2 separate regions of the Homo sapiens genome follow, and region 2 is linked to region 1. The links come from fine-mapping of genetic effects on plasma protein levels. A gene starts in region 1. The other region holds a variant in brackets. All regions are shown on one strand. Distances are between the middles of the regions.

What was found. A credible set is the group of variants that fine-mapping cannot tell apart. PIP is the posterior inclusion probability: the model's chance that the variant is causal. Protein levels are from antibody-based Olink assays in UK Biobank. Linkage for the fine-mapping came from a reference panel and not from the study's own genotypes, which makes the PIPs less certain.
Region 2: its variant is the best candidate, but not a certain one, in a credible set for the plasma level of the DPP10 protein (UK Biobank, PIP 0.51).

The regions. Positions count from the first base shown.
Region 1 is chr2:114,435,449-114,445,808 of GRCh38, reverse strand. It overlaps DPP10 (dipeptidyl peptidase like 10), which reads right to left and starts at 3,168. Exons shown (of 26, transcript NM_020868.6): 1 at 2,971-3,168. The coding sequence starts at 3,030.
Region 2 is chr2:115,725,625-115,733,624 of GRCh38, reverse strand. DPP10 (dipeptidyl peptidase like 10) reads right to left here. Exons shown (of 26, transcript NM_020868.6): 8 at 5,689-5,809. Among named protein-coding and RNA genes, the nearest start is that of DPP10-AS1, 570 kb to the right of the region's middle. The variant G/T (reference allele first, on the strand shown) is at 4,439.

The sequences.
Region 1 (10,360 bases):
CAGGAAAAGTGTGTCAGTAACTGTCTGAGCTAAAGAATGGCCAGAACGACCAAAGCAAGTGTCAAGCAACCTGAATACTCTTGATCATCTTGTTCCATTATAACTTCTCCCAATTTCCTCTTTTCCAACTCTGACACATCATGGCCACAAACAGCCTTCACTGGCAACAATTGCTGAATTTTACCCACTATAGACTTCATCACTTCTTGAACTTCAAGTGGAGGAGAACACACACACACACACACACACACACACACACACACACACACACACAGAGCTGTTTTTCCTCCTCCTGCACACTTTTGGCCTTTACAGCTATTTTAGCAATGCATTTCACTTTTGTTCATTCCCATTGCATTCTTTTTAGCCGTAGTTTAACTGTTGAGAGAAGAAACAGTCAGCATTTACTATACTGATGGGGGAAAAGTTCTCTAGAGGTTATTACACTGAGCTTTGGGAGAAAAGTCTCTAGAGGTTTTTGAATTTCTAAAATGGAGCAATATGCAAGTTATTTATTTCCAGATCCTCAAAGTGGGTTATCATTACCTGCAGGCCAACCAGATTCCATGAGGGAGGGTTACTTAAAATTATCTGATAGTAAATTGATAGTAAATTTAAGAGTGAGGAATAAAATTAACTTTAAACAACCATGCTTGAAACTAAAATTCTAATAGTTCAAAGAGTATTTTGAGCTCCAATGTCCCACAGCTTCCCAAAACCCTCTCATCTTAGAGTTTTTCTTTAGATTGTTATTGCATTTTGTTCATAGGCTAATGCATTACCTAAATATAGATAGCCATTTTTAGTATAAATTCAAAAAGCCATAAATGTTTCATAATTGAGCACATAATTTGAACTAAGAGAGATTTTCCACTCATCCCTTTTCACTATTGCAAATTGCAAAATACTCAAGTAATTACTCCCTTAATAGTTCAGTGCTTGCGACTATATATATTTTATGAACATCACAAGCATTTTTTTGCTCCCCAGAGCAATATTGGGAATGGGGTGCACAAAAGAATTTAACTTGTACAATTAACCAAATTACCCAGAGCTTTGATTCAAGATTCCTTCATTAAGCCATTAATATAATACATTGTTAAGTGGTGGGTTGTCCAATTTTTATGATACTTTTCATTTCAACTCAATGGCTGCAGTTAGAAGGAAAAAACAGCATCTGCAAGATCAGCAAGATGATGTAAAACCTCTACACTAGAAACATTTTTTTTTCTGTTCCACAGTTTGTTTGTGGGCAGCCAATGCCAGAGCACTAATAAAGGAAGTGATTTGAAGTCTCTGAAAGTAGTAGTCATTTATGCTTACTCAATAAAGAAAAGGGAAAATAAATGCTTGATTCCTGTGACCTCAGACTCTTAAACAGAAAGCCACTGGTTTTGTTATAGCATTCTAGACATACTTAGCAGTAGGCAGCCAGTTTGTAACTCTATCCCACTTTAGGCTTCAATACATATTTCCCACTAGAGCTTATATATCCCAATGTAGAGTGTCATGTATTTACTATTTTGGCTTTGTTCAGTGATATGCTTAGATAATTGATGTATGTGGGAAACTGATACACAGAGGAAAACTATACCAAAAGCTCAACATTTTTTATTTCTAAACTTAGATACAGCACAGAAAATCTAATGCTGAAAAAGATTCTCATATCTGTTATTAGAGGTGGTGTAAATTATCTGAATATGAGTTCTGCATGATTTCAGTTAACTCCCTATGTTTATGTATGATGGGAATCTAATTATGCATCATTTAATATACCCTGGAAACCCCATTGCTTTTAAAAGTCACTGCTAATAAATAGAGGAACATGTTTAGTTTATGGTTTATCTATCACTGAAACACTCTGGCAAACGGTAGGTAAATTCATGAAGAAGAGACATTGTTGAAAATTATATTCCTTTTGTAATTACAGTCTATGCAATATTATTAAAGGCCTGAGACATAAACCAAAACATAATATAAATCATAAAAAGTCAGGCTTATCAGGAATAGTAGCAAAAGGTATGCACTTGTATGTTAATGAGAGATTGCAGTAACTAAAGATGCCCTGTCAGGATATCACGTTTTTTGTTTTAGTTTTTTTTTTTTTTTCATAAAAGAGTTTCAGACGAATCCATCACTTTCCCTCAAGATGCAAAATATCCACATAGATAATAATACAATTCAAGTAAATGGCAAAATATAGTAAACTTTGATTGGAAGTCTGGTCGTTTATAAGCCTTCTTGGAAATAAGAGCATCCCGAATAAAAACAAAGAGAATGGTATAAGCATGACTTGAAACTAAAACAGAAGAGTGAAATTGTGAGTTTGTTCTTTACCTTTAACCATGTGCTGTCAGAAAAGCCTCAAATTTTAAACAACACCTGCATTGAAGAGTGTCTCCAATCATCTCACTGGTTTTGAGTTACATGGTGATATAAATAAAGACATGTGATTTTATACTCTCTCTCTAGTCTTTCATCCTCTCTCACTATAATCACTTTAGTATAACCACCAGTTCAATGCTCACAATGAAGGATGAGCTTTTTTTAAAAAAGGATAAGAGATCCAAAATTCATATGACAATGAAATCCTGTTATCAGATTTGTAGTCAATTTGATGCTATTTATTTCTAGCAGTTTGCAAATTCTTCCCCAGTTCTATCAAGAAAATTGGCATGGACTGGAAACTCTTCTAGACACTCACAAAACTTTCTTCTGGAAATATACCTCTGATAGATTCTCAGTAAAAAAAAAAAAAGTCATGAAGATGAAAGAAGTGTTCAGTGGAAACTATTCTTTCCAGTCTACACACACATGCAGAGCCAAATGCTTTATTGTGACTCAACCTTCAATTCAAACTCAAATCAAGTAGGTATGTCCACTGTCAGTACCCCGATATATCAATGCCCATGTGTTAGGTAGATGAATGAAGACACATGTGCAGAAGCAGAGGGAAAAACCAGATCCTACCTTGATTGTTTTTGAGGGTTGACACTTGATGTGATGGGACACGCTGGCAGTTTGGTTCATGTTTCAGGACCCTGGACAGTGCACAATCCCAGGCGGAGTTCCAGAATGAACTAGAGATCAAGTCTCCTCTATTGGACTTCAGTAGGGGCTGCTGCTGTTGCTGCTGCCGCTGCTACTGCTGTTGCTTCTGCTGCTTCTGTTTCTGCTGCTTCCTCACTCCGGAGGCTGAAACGCTATCAGATTGGAGGAATCTGTATCTCACTTAGCCCTAAATAGAGCATTTACTTGGTTCATCAGTCTCAAAGCTCTTGGCAATATGCAATAGAAAGCCAAAAACGGTTTAAATTCACTTGCAGTGTACCTTTTCAGTATGGAGATGTGACAGCTCCACAGTACAGCCAATGATCCTGGCTCTCATTCCCCTTTCAAAGGGACGAAAACCAGAAAACATACAGAGATCAATTGCAGTCCTGCAGTTTAAAGGGGCACTCTCAACTCCTCTGTCTCTCCAGATTATAGTTTTTCCAGTGCAAAATATTTCTCTCTCTCTCTCTCCCTCTCCCCACCCCTAACCCAGTTTAAAAAAAAATCATAACATCCTCATTCTGTTACTAAATTTTATTCCTTCCTGGGTACTTCTTGCAATCAAAACACAAGTAAATGCTGTGGAAAAAAAAAAAAAAAGACTGTTGGCAGTTTCAGAATTTGGGGGTTTTATATCTATAGGTTGAAGGACTGATATTCCCTATGGATATTTTTAAAATTTAGCCATAACAGCCAGCCAAGAGACTGTCCTTTCTGTAAGGTGGCAGAAAGCTTAAGGTATATTTAAAAAGTTTTCAAATACAATAGTTATTGTAGTTTTTGGATATCGCACCAAAGCTAGACAATGTTTTTATTTTCAACCTTTATTTTTGACCATTGCTTTCCTTGAAGCCGTATTTTTTGAATGCCTGGGACAAACTGGTAGTTAGCTCATGCCAGTCTAACTCCCCAAATGGTCACCTCTCTGTCCCTAATGTCATTTTAGGCAAAATAAATTATAAATATTTGTAAATTAAGTTTTCCGAGTCACCAGTCCCCATTGTCACATCAACACTAACTAGAATAAATATATCCTGGTTGGAAATAAGATCCAGTAGTCTTGAGTAAATGCAGGACACTCTTTTCCAACTTTTGTTGCAAAGTGTTTGATGTTGAAAACCAACAGTATTTATTCATCAGAAATGTATCCTACTAATGAAATGCTAGGTTTATAAGATTGAACTAACGAACTACATTCAGGAGGCTTTTATGAACAGCCTAAAATATTACAGATAAACTTTAATGTGAAATGAAATAAATTAATGTTTGGTGAAATTAATTTATACATAATTATAAACACATATTTTCTCTTGTAAAACAGAAAAGGGATCTAAACATTCTGACAAAGTAGTCTGCACATGTTTGAGGATGGCTAAGTTTCAGAAGGTTATAGTTCTGAGTAGCAAAGTGGAGGTAAGGATGTGACAGAAGTAAGATCAGACTGTTTGCAGCCACAAAAGTTAATGGCAAGAGTATTGGAGAAATCAGGAGAATCATGGGAAAAGAGATGGAGCCAATAAGAACCAGGCAAAAGGCTGTGTGCAAGAATCTGGTGTAGCAATATCCAGGCATCATATTGAGCACAACCAGAGGCAGCCATAGGGCCAACAAATCTCATGATTTGAAGTTTACAATTCTAAATCACAAATGTGACTGGAATTTGTGGCTTATCTTGTATTTTGCTTGAATAGCATTGCTTTGAATAATTCATAAATCACAAAAAGAGTATATTAAAAATGTTTAAACATTTTGTATTCAACAATAATGAAAACAACACAGAAAATTTGCAGTATGCAGCTAAATCAATATTTAAAGGAAAATGTATATAATTAAGTACCTATACCAGAAATGCAGAAAAGCATAAAATTAATAATTAATAAGCTAATTATTCATATCAAAGAGTTGGAAAAAGAATGGCAAAATAAACTCAAATAAATTATAGGGGGGAAACAATAAAGAGAAGAGAAGAAAGTAATGAAGTAAAAAACATACAAAATACTCAATGAAAAAACCTATGAACATTTCATCAGGTGGTTTACAGTTTGATAATCTCTGAATAAATGAATGTTCTATACCAGTAGAATTGGCTTAATTCCTTTCTTAGATAGCACTTTGTACTAGGTATCTAAGAAACTTCCAAACTAAATTATCTGGGGAGCCCAGGGAGGGAGAGCAGTCCAAGAGTTCAGAGTATCCCATCCCCATCAAAGAACTGTACAGGATGGAAGGAGCCACTAGTACTTCAAGGAACCCTCTCCAGGCACATTGATAGAGACAGCATTTATATGCCTACCACAAAGAGGGTATGAGTTGCTGGATTTCTACAACTATAATCACATGAGACTTCACCCCTTTTCTACAATTTTTCAAAAAGGTTCTACCCCCACCTGGATGGCAGCAGGATCCAAGAAAGATATTGACACTACCATTTATAGGTAGGTGGCCAGAATCCACCTAAAATCTTTTCCCAAAGTTGCATTTTGAAAATAGAGAAAAATCACAGTAAGAGAAAAGAGTGCCTCGTATACACCATATGCTCCCTTTCCAGGCTCCACATTATATCAAACTCCAAGTTCCAAAGAAAAATCAAGTGTTCAGAGCAAAACATATGACCCAAATCTCATTTTGGATTTTGTTTTCCCTTTCTGTTATATTATCATTTCATGAATCAAGGAAATGAAAACCATAGTAATTTTTAAACATTTCTATTTAAAACATGTATAAATTGTTCATTATTTTGTAAAATCTGCTGTATCTTAATGTAGCCAATTGGAATGTACAACTAGAAGAAAATAGAGACCAAAGAAATTTAGACAAGTGCTAGAGAATTACAAATACCGCTTAATAAGGATAATTCATATACATTTCTTCTAATTGGGATATATTGGGCTCAATATGTTTAGAATGAAAACAGCTGCAAAATTGCATCACGGTTTGTCACATGGAAGTAGTTTTTTTTAAGGTTTAGATCTGCTGAAGAAACACTATACAGTAAATCATACTGAACTAGAAAATTTAGACAATTTAGTCCAAAGGACCAATTTCAAATGTAATCAACACTTATGATAACCGTATAAAAATATGTTGTTGTCAAACAGTTTGGGAAAAGTTAGGAGTGAGTCCCTTCCACCTTTCCCACAAAAAAAATTAAGATGGCTAACGCTTTCAGAAAATATAACCCACGATGTTCCTTGACCAGCTATCATTTGATCCGGGAAATAGAAATTTAGGATGGGGTTAATGAAAATATCCCATTAGAAAAAAAAAAAAGTCAAAGTGTCAGATGGATTCTACTACCAATTTCCGTCTCTTTGTTTCAAGTCCCATCTGCCCAAGCCCTAACTAGCTGGTCACAGTGATGACCTACAGATTGCAAAGTTAGGCAAGCCCAGGCCTCTAGTCAATAAGAATGGTATCTGAAAGGATATTGGGCTGTTTCCCTGATTTTTTTGAAATCTACTGTAGAAAATTCAAATCCCTCCATGACCATTGAGGGATCATCTCCTCATCTTAACACCTATCATCTGTGTTCTGGTCTTCTCATGACCCATCCACTGAGTCATTTGCATTTCCTACTAGAACTGGAATATGGTTTCTAATGGTTGGCTTTTTTGACTTGACCCTCACCTAACTCCTGCCTGCCACATCTTTCTTCATGATTGACCCCTGCTTGTAACACCTTCTATGCTTCAGATTGTTCCCGGGATTCACTCAAGTGGAAGTCTCTGGTCTAATTGTGGCTTCATGGTCTTCAAGAATTGATCTTTTCTGGAAACCACTTGCAGAGTCAGGATAGGCAAAGTTATGGTTCAATAACAAATAACCTCCAAGGTCGGGTGCAGTGGCCTACACTGATAATCCCAGCATTTTGAGAGGCTGAGACAAGTGGGTCACTTGAGGCCAGGAGTCTGAGAACAGCCTGGGCAACATGGCAAACCCCATCTCTACAAAAAAATACAAAAATTAGCCTGGCATGGTGGTGCACACCTGTAATCCCAGCTATTCGGGAGGCTGAGGCATGAGAGTTGCTTGAACCCCAGAGGCGGAGGTTGCAGTGAGCTGAGATTGTGCCACTGCACTACAGCCTGAATGACAGAGGGAGACTCTATCTCAAAAAATAAAAATAAATAAATAAATACATTTATAAGTAATCTCTAAATCCCAGTGGTTTAAAATAATGAAGGTTTCTTTCTCATTATACAGCATGCCAATACCTGGTTGGCACGGGAGGAAGAGCACGTGAGGCTCTTTCAATCTTAGGGATCCAGGCTGATAAAGGCCCCATCTTAATACAAGCTTTCACAATCAACAAGGCAGAAGGAAAGAAACATGAAAAATCATGCTCTTATTTAAAGGCTTATGCCCAGCAAAGACACAAAACACTTCTACTTACATTCCATTGGCTAAAGCCACTCTCATGGCTACATTCAAGTTTAGGTAACAAGAAAGTGACGTGCAGCATGCACCCAAGTAGCAGTAAAATCAGAATAGCATTCTGAGTAACCCTAATGATAGCCATAACCCTACTGCTGCTTATTTTTCATATGCAGAGATATATGCCTATCTCTGCCATCCAACCTTAAGATGCCAACATGCTTATATTTAATGGTCCATAGACTGTGACAAGTTAATTTCAAAGCTACTTCAGGTAAATATAAGACAGAACTTCTTTATCCTATGTGTCTTGTTATCAACAGGGCTTTCCTAATATCTTTTCCTGAGTTATTCAGGAGTAGGATACAGACCCATAATAACACTTGCATATGGGGAAATACCAGAGTTGAATGTGAGCTATGAGGATTTCCCCTGCTGGGCACATATAGCTCTGCAAAGGCCAGAGCCATTGGTAGGAGGCAGAGCAGGCAGGCCTGACTACATAAGAGTGCATACTTTTAACTATTCTGCTATACGAATAAAAAAAGTTATTTTATCCTACTAACCGTTGTAACTGTACTAATACAACAAAAAGTAAAACTCACATTTTCTTATTCTTTCAGTAGTAATCACTTGAAGGACTTTCTGAAAAAAAAGCAAATATAGTATTATGAATTCTCAAGTAGCAATAAAATGTAAGTTTAATGAGAAAAAGAACACAAATTTCTAAACTCGCTTTTACATTAGATGATCAACTACTGTGTGATTCACTGTCTGAAAGCCACCTCTCCAGACTTATGTCCCATAATATTCCAACCAAACACACAAACACATAGAAAGTGGGAAGTGCTCGCTCTACATTTTCAATTTATCGTCCAAATTAATTAATGAAGTAGTTTATTGTACTCTTTCTCTCATGAGGTATTGCCTAAAACCACATAGAACGTGAGAGCAGGGATTAGAATCAACAAATAAGTGAAGTTATTGACTAGCCTATGCCAGTCCAGCTTTAGAGCTGGCTGCCATTCCCGTATCCAATAAGAACTGACCTACACTCATTGACAAGTGTGAATTGCCCCTCTTTGCATCTCCCGTTACTGGATTTGGCTTCCTGATTTTTCCACTATTCATCTCTTGATCATCACCACAAACTTTTCAAACTGTCCTCTTAGCTGATCCTTGACTATAATTTGCTCTTATCCTGGAGGCTGCCTGCTTCCAAGTACACTGGATATATAGTCTGTATGATGCAGACCAACCTCAGGGTGACCGACTGTCACAGATCCAGTTGACTGACATTCCTGACAGGTTCCACTCCCTGCTGCTTGCTAACCAGAACCAAACACAAACATCTCAAAAATTATCAGTTGCCCCAAGTGGAGTTCCACATCCATAAAAAAGCAAAACATTATCTCTGCTACTGTCATTGTCTTACACAGTTCTAATGGTGACATTTATGTTTTCTGGAATAATTCTCTTCTGCAAAAACTTCCAGCTGAAAATGTGATCCAAATCCTAAATTTATAAAACACTAAAATAGATAGCCATGATTTCCTCATAAGGGATTTTTGGAGCTTTCCTCACCCTCAGTTCTCCAGTTGCAAATAACTCAGCAAACAAGACCCCCAAAAGTGCCTTAGAAATGTTCAGTTCTAGATACAGATGCTTTCATGAACACACAGAAATAAACACTGGAGGTAACTCTTTATGTAAGCATAACAATCTGCTCCACAATCCCTGACAAATGCCTTCAATAAATTTTCTCTATGGCCAAAGTCATAAATCACTGTGAAGACAGAATGCACACATAAAATCCATTGCACTATAGTTCCCCAGACATCAGGGACAGACTACTTCATCTAGTTCAGCTATTAGTGACAGCAGTCCCCCAAGCCAGCCTATACTATTCTAAGGTCCCAAGATCTGCCTATTAGGAATTTTGACCATTGCTCCCTGATTGCCCATTTCTCCTGCTTTCATTTCTTCCTGTTCTGAGTGTTGTCGCAACATTTATGACCTGAAAAGGAGTTCACATGTAAGGTAGATAATTGATGAGCCCAATAAAACAATCATTATAATTTTTAGGGAGCTTTGGCAGTCATTCAGTCCTGGATTCTACTGTGCATCCCACATCTCCAAAGCAGTGGAATGCAGAACCAGTGTTTGCCAGGACTCAGTTCCCTTCCTTTCCCTGTGGTAAACAGTCTTCAACTGCAGATAGTGCCCAACTCAGAGGCTGACTGCTACCTTGGCAGCATTAAGGAGGTGCCATGGCAGGTGTGGTTTGTAACTTCAGCATTTTGTACATTATATAAGAGAACAAAGTGCTGGTTTGGAAATTTTGTTCTATCTTACAAAATTATGGTCATAAGGCAAGTCTTCTGGAATAAAAATTCAAGGAGCAGTCTTAAAGCAAATTAAATGTTTGTAGTCTTTGGAAAAGGCAAGTAAAGTACCCAAATTCAAAATATCTCTTCCAGCCTCTTCATTGCCTCATTCAAAGAAGGCTTTAAAATCAAAGCTAAAAGAATTGACTTTGACCTCCTGGAAAACAAAATAAGGTTAGGAAAGTGCTCATTTTATTCCCTTCCTGCCATCCCCAATTACTACATATTATTCAATGCCCATCTAAATGTTGCCTCTTTCCTCAGATTTTCTTCCTGATTTTTTCACATTTTATCTTTGCCTCTTTTACGGTACTAATCACATTCTGATTTTAGTAACTTAGTTCTGTATTGTTCTTACGTGTATTAACTTGTCCATAAGTTCTCTGAGGGATAAGATTACGGTTCAAAATTCTTTATATAACATGAAACACTTCAGCACATGCATATAGATTAACAACAAACTGCAGGTTATATTACTTAACTCATTAATTAAACCCAAAATCTATTCATTGAGTTTAGCAGTAACTAGGTCACATTTAGCCTTG
Region 2 (8,000 bases), 1.3 Mb before region 1:
TCTGCAGGCCTGTGGTTGATTTTTTTTTTTTTTTCAATTTTCTGCATTTCACTGTCAAATTCCTTGAAAGAATAGTCTCTATTCATAACTTTCTCACTCCCCATTTACATGTCCATCCACTGCAGTCTTGGATTTGGCCCCACCAATTAACTGATTTTACTCCTGTCAAGGCCATCGATGATCTATGAGCAAATCCAACAAAAGCTTTGGAATCCTTCCCTTGTTTGACCTCTGGAGACTCAGCACTACTGATAACCCTGCCTTCCTGTGACTCCCATGCTGCAGCCCCATAGATGACACTGAGCAAGTGCTCAATAAATATTTGTTGAATCAATGATGAAATGAATGCAATTTCATGTCGCCAAAAGACATTAATGTGAAACATTAATGTGAAACAAACATGAAGGTGAAAATAGGCATTTTGCCCTGTTTTATTTCAACAAAAAAAGTGTAACAATCAGAATCTGCTGATAAGAATATTGCTTATCTCGTGAATTTTTCCGCACCTTTTCATTCTTGTCATTCTTGAATACCAACACAAGGCCCATGTCATCTATGAAGCACCTGACATTCCTCCATCCTATCAAACTTAGTTCTACTTATAATTCTATTTAGTATGTGAAATAAATCCTATTTATATTTATATTTACTATGCTCCAAATGGTTCCCAATACAATAGTTGTTTATTGTTTATCACTACACTAAGTTGGAAATACCCAAGACATGGAAACCCGTATTTCTCATCGTATTGCTCTTAGATAATGCCTGGCAGGTATATTTGCTCCACAGCTGTTGGATTAAACTTTAAGGAATAATCCCTTAAATATACAAGGTTCTAAAATATATCTGTAAATCACTTAAGCATATTAGTTCCATTATTCTATATGCTTAAATATTTGAAAGTGAGTCATTTTTTTTCCTATTTAATAGATTAAATGCTTTATGGAAATTTTCAAAGCTGTGAAGTGGGTAGCTGTAAACTTTCTTTTTAGTAACATTTTAAAAGTTTTTAAAGTAAAACTTTGATCTGATATCGTATTTAATTACATTGCTAGGTTAAATACAGCAATTTAAGTGAATAACATTATACGTGTTTTGTGCGAATTACATTTTAAATAATCTTCCTTTTTGAGCATTTTCTTATTTTTCTGACTTCGCTGTTTAAAATGCATTATACTTTATATTGCTTTACTTTCTTTAGGAACTAAACAATACTAAAAATAGAGACAAAGATTCTTAAAACTGACACTTTTAAGGACTCTATTTAGTGACTAGTTGGGGGCAGCAGCCACTCTTACAGATTGGCCTGGTCTTAAAAGATTAAGACATGCCTGTAAAGCTTACTGTAAAAATATTTTATTGTCTTTTATGTCACTCTTTCTCTCATCTTTTTTTTCTATGACATTTACAAAAGGTAAATTTCAATTTTAAAAAAGTTGAAATGTTACATGTTACTTTCTGTGTCTCCCATACATGCTAATTTAGATTGTAATTGACTCCTGTAAAGTAATAAAAAGGAAATCTCCACACCAGAGTATCACACACATAACGTTGAAATTACATGCATTCCCTAGGCAATATCATTGTGTTTCAGTGAGTGCATTAAAGGGGAAAAAAAAGGTCTGGAGCTTGGGAGCTCCTGGCACATTCCACAAGCAAGGTGATAGTGGGAGGGTAAGGTGCATGTAGGACTCTTGAAGCAGAGGTTGGGGGTAGCAGTCAAAATAGTGAGGGAAAATCAAAAACATCTGAATAGCTTACATCCCTCTGCCAAACCTTAACATTGAAGTCATGGGTAGGGTTCCTCCTGGAAATGCAGTGAGGATTAGAGTAAGTCCATGGACAGTAGGATGAGTCTTTGGCTGAGGAAACAGATCACTGAAGTCTGACAATTTAGGTCCCAAAACGTGTGTTGTGTCTTGGGGAACAGTGAAGGACATCCCCCTATAACAAGTAGAGTAGACTAGTGACTAAGCCCTGGCTTTAGGAACAAAAGACACACATTCAAATGTTGGCTCTCCCACTCATTAGCTCTGAGGCCATGTCTAAATCACTGATCCTCTCTGAGTCTTGGTTTCTTTTTTAAATTTTTTCTTTTGAGACAGGGTCTCGCTTCTGTTGCCCAGGCTGGAGTGCAGTGGCATGATCTTGGCTCACTGCAGCCTCAACTTCCTGGCTTAGGTGATCCTCCCACCTCAGCTTCCAGAGTAGGGGGGAACACAGGTATGTGCTACCCCACCACCCCACCCAGTTAAATTTTTTTTTTTTTTGAGACAGAGTCTTGCTCTGTCACCAGGCTGGAGTGCAGTGGCATGATCTTGGCTCTGCAACCTCCAACTCCCTGGTTCAAGCGATTTTCCTGCCTCAGCCTCCCGAGTAGCTGGGATTACAGGTACGCACCAGCATGCCCAGCTAATTTTTGTATTTTTAGTAGAGACGGGGTTTCACCATGTTGGCCAGGATGGTCTCAATCTCCTGACCTCATGATCCACCGGCCTTGGCCTCCCAAAATGCTGGGATTACAGGTATGAGCCACCACACCCAGCCTTTTTTTGTATTTTTAGTAGAGACAGGATTTTGCCATATTGCCCAGGCTGGTCTTGAAATCCTGGGCTCAAGTGATCTGCCCACCTCGCCCCCTCAAAGTGCTAGGATTGCTGGCATGAGCCACAGCACTGGGTGCGTCTTAGTTTCTTCATAAATGATTAGATGCACAAACATTTTGATGATTAAATCACATACACGTACAGCATTTCCTAGTTAACGGCAACATAGGAGCCCAAAGTATGGCAAAAACTATACTTTTTCCTTTCCCCTTTGGAATGCGTCAGACCTACAGCATCATCACAAAAGTTTGTATTACCCGTTTGTTCTGCTCTCCACAACCCCTACAAACAGTTTACTCTCAGACCGAATACATAGATTTTTATTCTTTAGTTAAGAAAATTACCGTATTTGTCAGGAAACGGTCTCTAATTTCTCTCCTTAAAATTTCCTTATAAATGTATGAAGCCTTTTCAATAGGACAGAGACCCAAGTCATCTTAATTCGGGACGGAGCAGCACAATAAGCATGGTCTACATTGAGTATACCCTCAGTTGACTGAAAACTTCATCGACGTTACAGACCACCTTTTATCACCAAGGGAGCACGTCAGTACGTGGTTCAATGCCCGCATTGCTGCTAATCTAGTCTTCTCTTCCCTGAAACCCACTGCTCCTTGTTAATGCTTGCTCACTATGTCTGCCACCACTACTTACTAGTGACCCAAACCAGAAGACACAGAATCATCCTTGACTTCTTATCATTCACCCCATCTGCTTAGCCACTAAGACCTATATATTTCATTGTCTCATCAATTTTAGAGTCTTTCCTCCTTTTTACTGCTTTAACCCTAGTTCCATTGCTCATTATCTCTTGATAGAACATAGAAGAAGCCTTACAGCCGCTCACCGTTTCTTTCCACTCTTAGACCCCAGGTTCCTGCTGTCACAAAAACAATCTGTTCATATGGAAGATCCAATCTTGTCACTCCCTTACTTGAAAACTTCTATTAGTTTTCCTATTAAATGGTAGGAAAATAATTGAAATTCCAAATCATTGATAGAGGTCACTATCCCTCGCTTCTTGCTACCTTCCTTTGTCTCAAATTTTATGGCCCAATTATATCAAGGAGACTTTGGTTCCCTAGGGACACACTTGTGGGTTTTTGCAAATTGTTACATCTGCTTAGATTTTTCCTTCCTAATTTCTTCTCATGCGTAACACTTGTTAACTGTTCAGGCTTGACTCAGATGCTCTCTCTCTCTTCTCTCTCTCTCTCTTTTTCTCTCTCTCCCTTGTTTTAAGAGGTAAGGATCTCACTCTGTTGCCTAAGCTGGAGTTCAGGGGCCTGGATCATAGCTCATTGCAGTCTTCAACTCCCGAGCTCAAGCAATCCTCTCTCATTAACAATCCTCTCACTTCAGCTGGGAACACAGGTGCATGCCATCACATCTGGCTAATTTTTAAAAATTTTTTAGTAGAAATGAAAACCTTGCTATTTTGTCTAGGCTGGTATGGAACTCCTGGCTTTGGATAATTCTCCCACCTTGGCCTCCCACAGCTCTGAGATTACAGGCTTGAGCTACTGTTGTTGGCCAGGGTTTCTCCTTTAGAAAAAATGCTTGCAAATCCCTAGAATGGTATCATTCCTTTGTTCTTCCATAGAATTCTGTGTTGATTAAGATTCAACTACTTACCACACTGCATTAACATGGTTTCTTCATCTGTCAGGGTGTCACACAGTACCAATAATATTTTGAAGAAAAAGGGCACGTCTTAGTCTCTGCACTTCAATTAGCTCCTGCTACCTAGACTGCCAGAACTAACCAGATTTTAAATGTGTTGTCCACCTGTTTATTAAATTCTGAGGGCCATCCCAGTCCCCTCCAGTAAT[G/T]TATCTCTTTGAAATAGAAAAGCCAGATTTAGATTCTGTAACTCTCAACCAATGAACACTCCTTACCTGTGTATTTCTTTTTCTAATATATACTTTCACAGCATACTTATTGTTAATATTTTCGGGGAAGCTCTCACTGCTCTTCACAATAAATTGTAGCCTCTAAAAATCTTATTTCATGCTGGCATGTACACAGAAATCTATTATAGATATAAATATACATGTACACATATACATATAAATCTCAAGGGTTACAACATCTCTTCTTTAATAAAATAGCTCCACCTAACAAAATATTTCACGTAAATATACGGTTTATTAGAGCAGTACTTTTTGCTCCGTCTTTTATCCTGGCACCTAGACATCTATCCAGAATACAGTAGGCCTTCAATGATATCATTTGAGTGAAAGAGTGAATGAATGAATAATTGGTCTAAGTTATTCACTTTTCTTATAGAATTAAAAATGTCAAATCTGAGGTAGAGAGATTACATTTGCAAATATTGCCCATGAAATAAAATTCACTTTTTGAATGATTCATAGCTTTATAATTTATAATAAAGTAGACTTACTTTAAATCTTGACATATTTTGCCAAAATCAGCTGAAGAATCTGAAACATAGGTAATAAACTCATACTTTGAGTCTTGCCCAGGCAATCTATATGTAGAACTCAGCTGATAATTGGTACGTGATAAAAACTGGATAAATTTTCATCACCTGATTTATTTTTATATTCTCAGCTATTACTAAAACTTGATTCAATAGATATTGAAAATAACTCTTTATGTGGGTTTTATTTTGCTCCCTCTGCAATAGCTTATAAAGTGTGACAGAATGTCCCTAATGGAAATAACTAAAATCAGGTGGCTTTTTATGCATTTTTTTTTTTTTTTTTTAGAAATAAAGGTTTCTGTTTCTTCTTTCCCAGAGAGTCAGAAAAAATTCAGCATCTAATTCCAAAGTGACATAAGGTAACCATTTACTTTCATTAGTTGTCCTCACAAATAATATCTATCTAGCCTATATGTACATATATACACCAAACATGGAATCATGTAAGTAGATGTAAATCTCAACCACACAAAATATAAGCACATGCAAAGATATGAAAGCATGAGGGCAATTTTGAGAGAAAATGAGAAGAAACTGTACTGTAAGTATTGCTCCGGAATGAATAGATTTTTTTTGGTAGATTTTGTATAAAAATATGTCATTTGTTTCCTTTGAAACTAAATCTGATCAACTCACCTTCATATAACCAGTCAGCAATCCCATTAAAAATTATTTCTTCTTTTCCAGAAGATGTCAGTCGCAATGAACTGCTCTTTATATCAGGTTGATAGTAGATATTATTTTCAAAAATATAAATCTGGATCAGGAAATGTGAAACAAACAAAAAATCCAACACGTTAGGATGCCTTTTGAAACTTTAATATTACAGAATGATCACTGAATAGCCATGTTGTATTATTTACGGGCTTCAAGTTGTTTTTATTCAAGGCATATGTTTTTATTGCTTTCAATTATTAATGGCTTTTTCTGTTTTATTGTATCAATATCAAGTTGTCATTTGGAAATTCCATGGCACTTGGTATTGATGCTTTTAAATCCATATTTTCAGCAACAATATTTCAACTACTTAATAATCTCTCTCCATACCACAAAATTGTTTTGGCTTTGAGATAACATTTTGCTTACTCAAGAGACTGATAACTGTAACTATAAGCCATTTTAGTAACACCAACTGACTGTTTGAAGAGCTTCAATTTGGGGTCTTTACTTTTACAAAAATGCATTTGGTGATCAATAAAATAATCTCTAGATAATCTCTCTGATTCTATCTAGCTCAGCTCACAGATTCCCTGATGGTAGAAACGATACTAAAATTCCTTTGAATTGATAAGTGGAACACAGCTTCCAGTGCACCAGTCTTGGCAACTCTTTTGTAAATAGTACGGCAATAATAATAACCTTATAACTGAGAGTTCCAGAGAGAGTCTTAATTTGAACATAGCACAGTCTGCCAAAATAATATCAACAATAGCCCCAACAACAGGAACAATGGTGCAAACTAAACAATGTCACAATGTGCCTATGATATAGATAATTCAGGATAAAATTATTTATAATTCGCTTTACAATGTCTTCAATGCCAAATACTTGAAACTGCTGACCAATGTGGTACTATAATCTTCCAGAGAACCATGTTTCTTTGGTTAGGGGAAGCACAACATTGTCCAGGGCAAGCCAAATTGCTATTTAGATCAAACATTCTACTAAGAAGGTGAAAGATGGCATAGGGCCCCTGTATCCTAGCATGGTATAGAATTAACACACAGTAGCAAATAGAGAAAACACAAGATCTTCCAAGACAATTGTCTGAATACTTACGAGGCCCTAGGTTTTAAATCTTGGTGTGCACAGTGACAAGAGCAATTTGAACATCTAGAACATTTCATGGATATTCTATTTTAATTCTGGTGATTTAACAAGCATTTACAGGTGGGTGTATTTAATTATTAATTCCACCGCTACAACAGGATCTTTTTTATACCACAGGTGAGAATCTCAATATCAGAGTAAGAATTTAAAAATAAATAAAAACAATGAAAGGAGGGTACTGCAGGGTGGTTACAAGCGTGGACTTTATAGCCAGGCAGCCTAAATTTAAAATCCTAATGACCTTGATAACATTCTTAACCTTTCTAAATCTCGGTCCTCTACTTTATAAAATGTGAATAAGGCTCACACATACCTTACAGATCTGTGGTGAAGAGTAAATGAGATGATGAATGCAGAATAAATAGCACATTGGGGTATTACTAAAAGCAGGGTGGACTGTACACAAGATAACCTGGTTCACAATGTTAAGAGTGTTGGAGGCAACAAACTCTAAGTCAAAATGAAGCCTCTACAGCTTTAGCTGATATGTAAATTATCCCAACGTTTTGTCTGGTAGAGTACATGTTATATTAGTTAAATATGTATTAGGAGTAGGAGCAGAACAGTAGCAGCAATAGTGGTAGTATTAATAGTAGGAAGGCAAGGGACATGGAGGAGGAGAGAGCTATTAACAAATAATATTTATTGCTTCCACCTCAGTTAGAAAGTTCTCAGGTGAGACAATGAAATAGGAAATAAGCTTATTACTAAAATTATGTGGATCACACTTAGGCAAAAGTTTGAGAATTACCTCTCAGATTCCCTAACACTGGATAGAAGTTGGATTTAATGACTTTCACGACCCCTGATAACTGAGAAAAAATATGAACTTTGTTCTAGCCAACTAAAGCATAAGCTTTACACCTTTCCAATACTACATCCTCTTGCTTTTCACAAACAGTATACAACACAGGTGCACAACGTTTTCCTTATTTGGAGGAAATTCCTTTCCTGTACCTGAAACTTCTAGTGGGACTTGTGAGTCATAACAGCACAGATCATGCACACCGGGACTACTCAGCACATATTGCTCTTATTAGGAGTGGAGGTGACCTCACCCAAAGTAATATGGTTCTGAATTCTCAGCTTTCTGAAGGGAATAAAATCTAAGTCAAAAT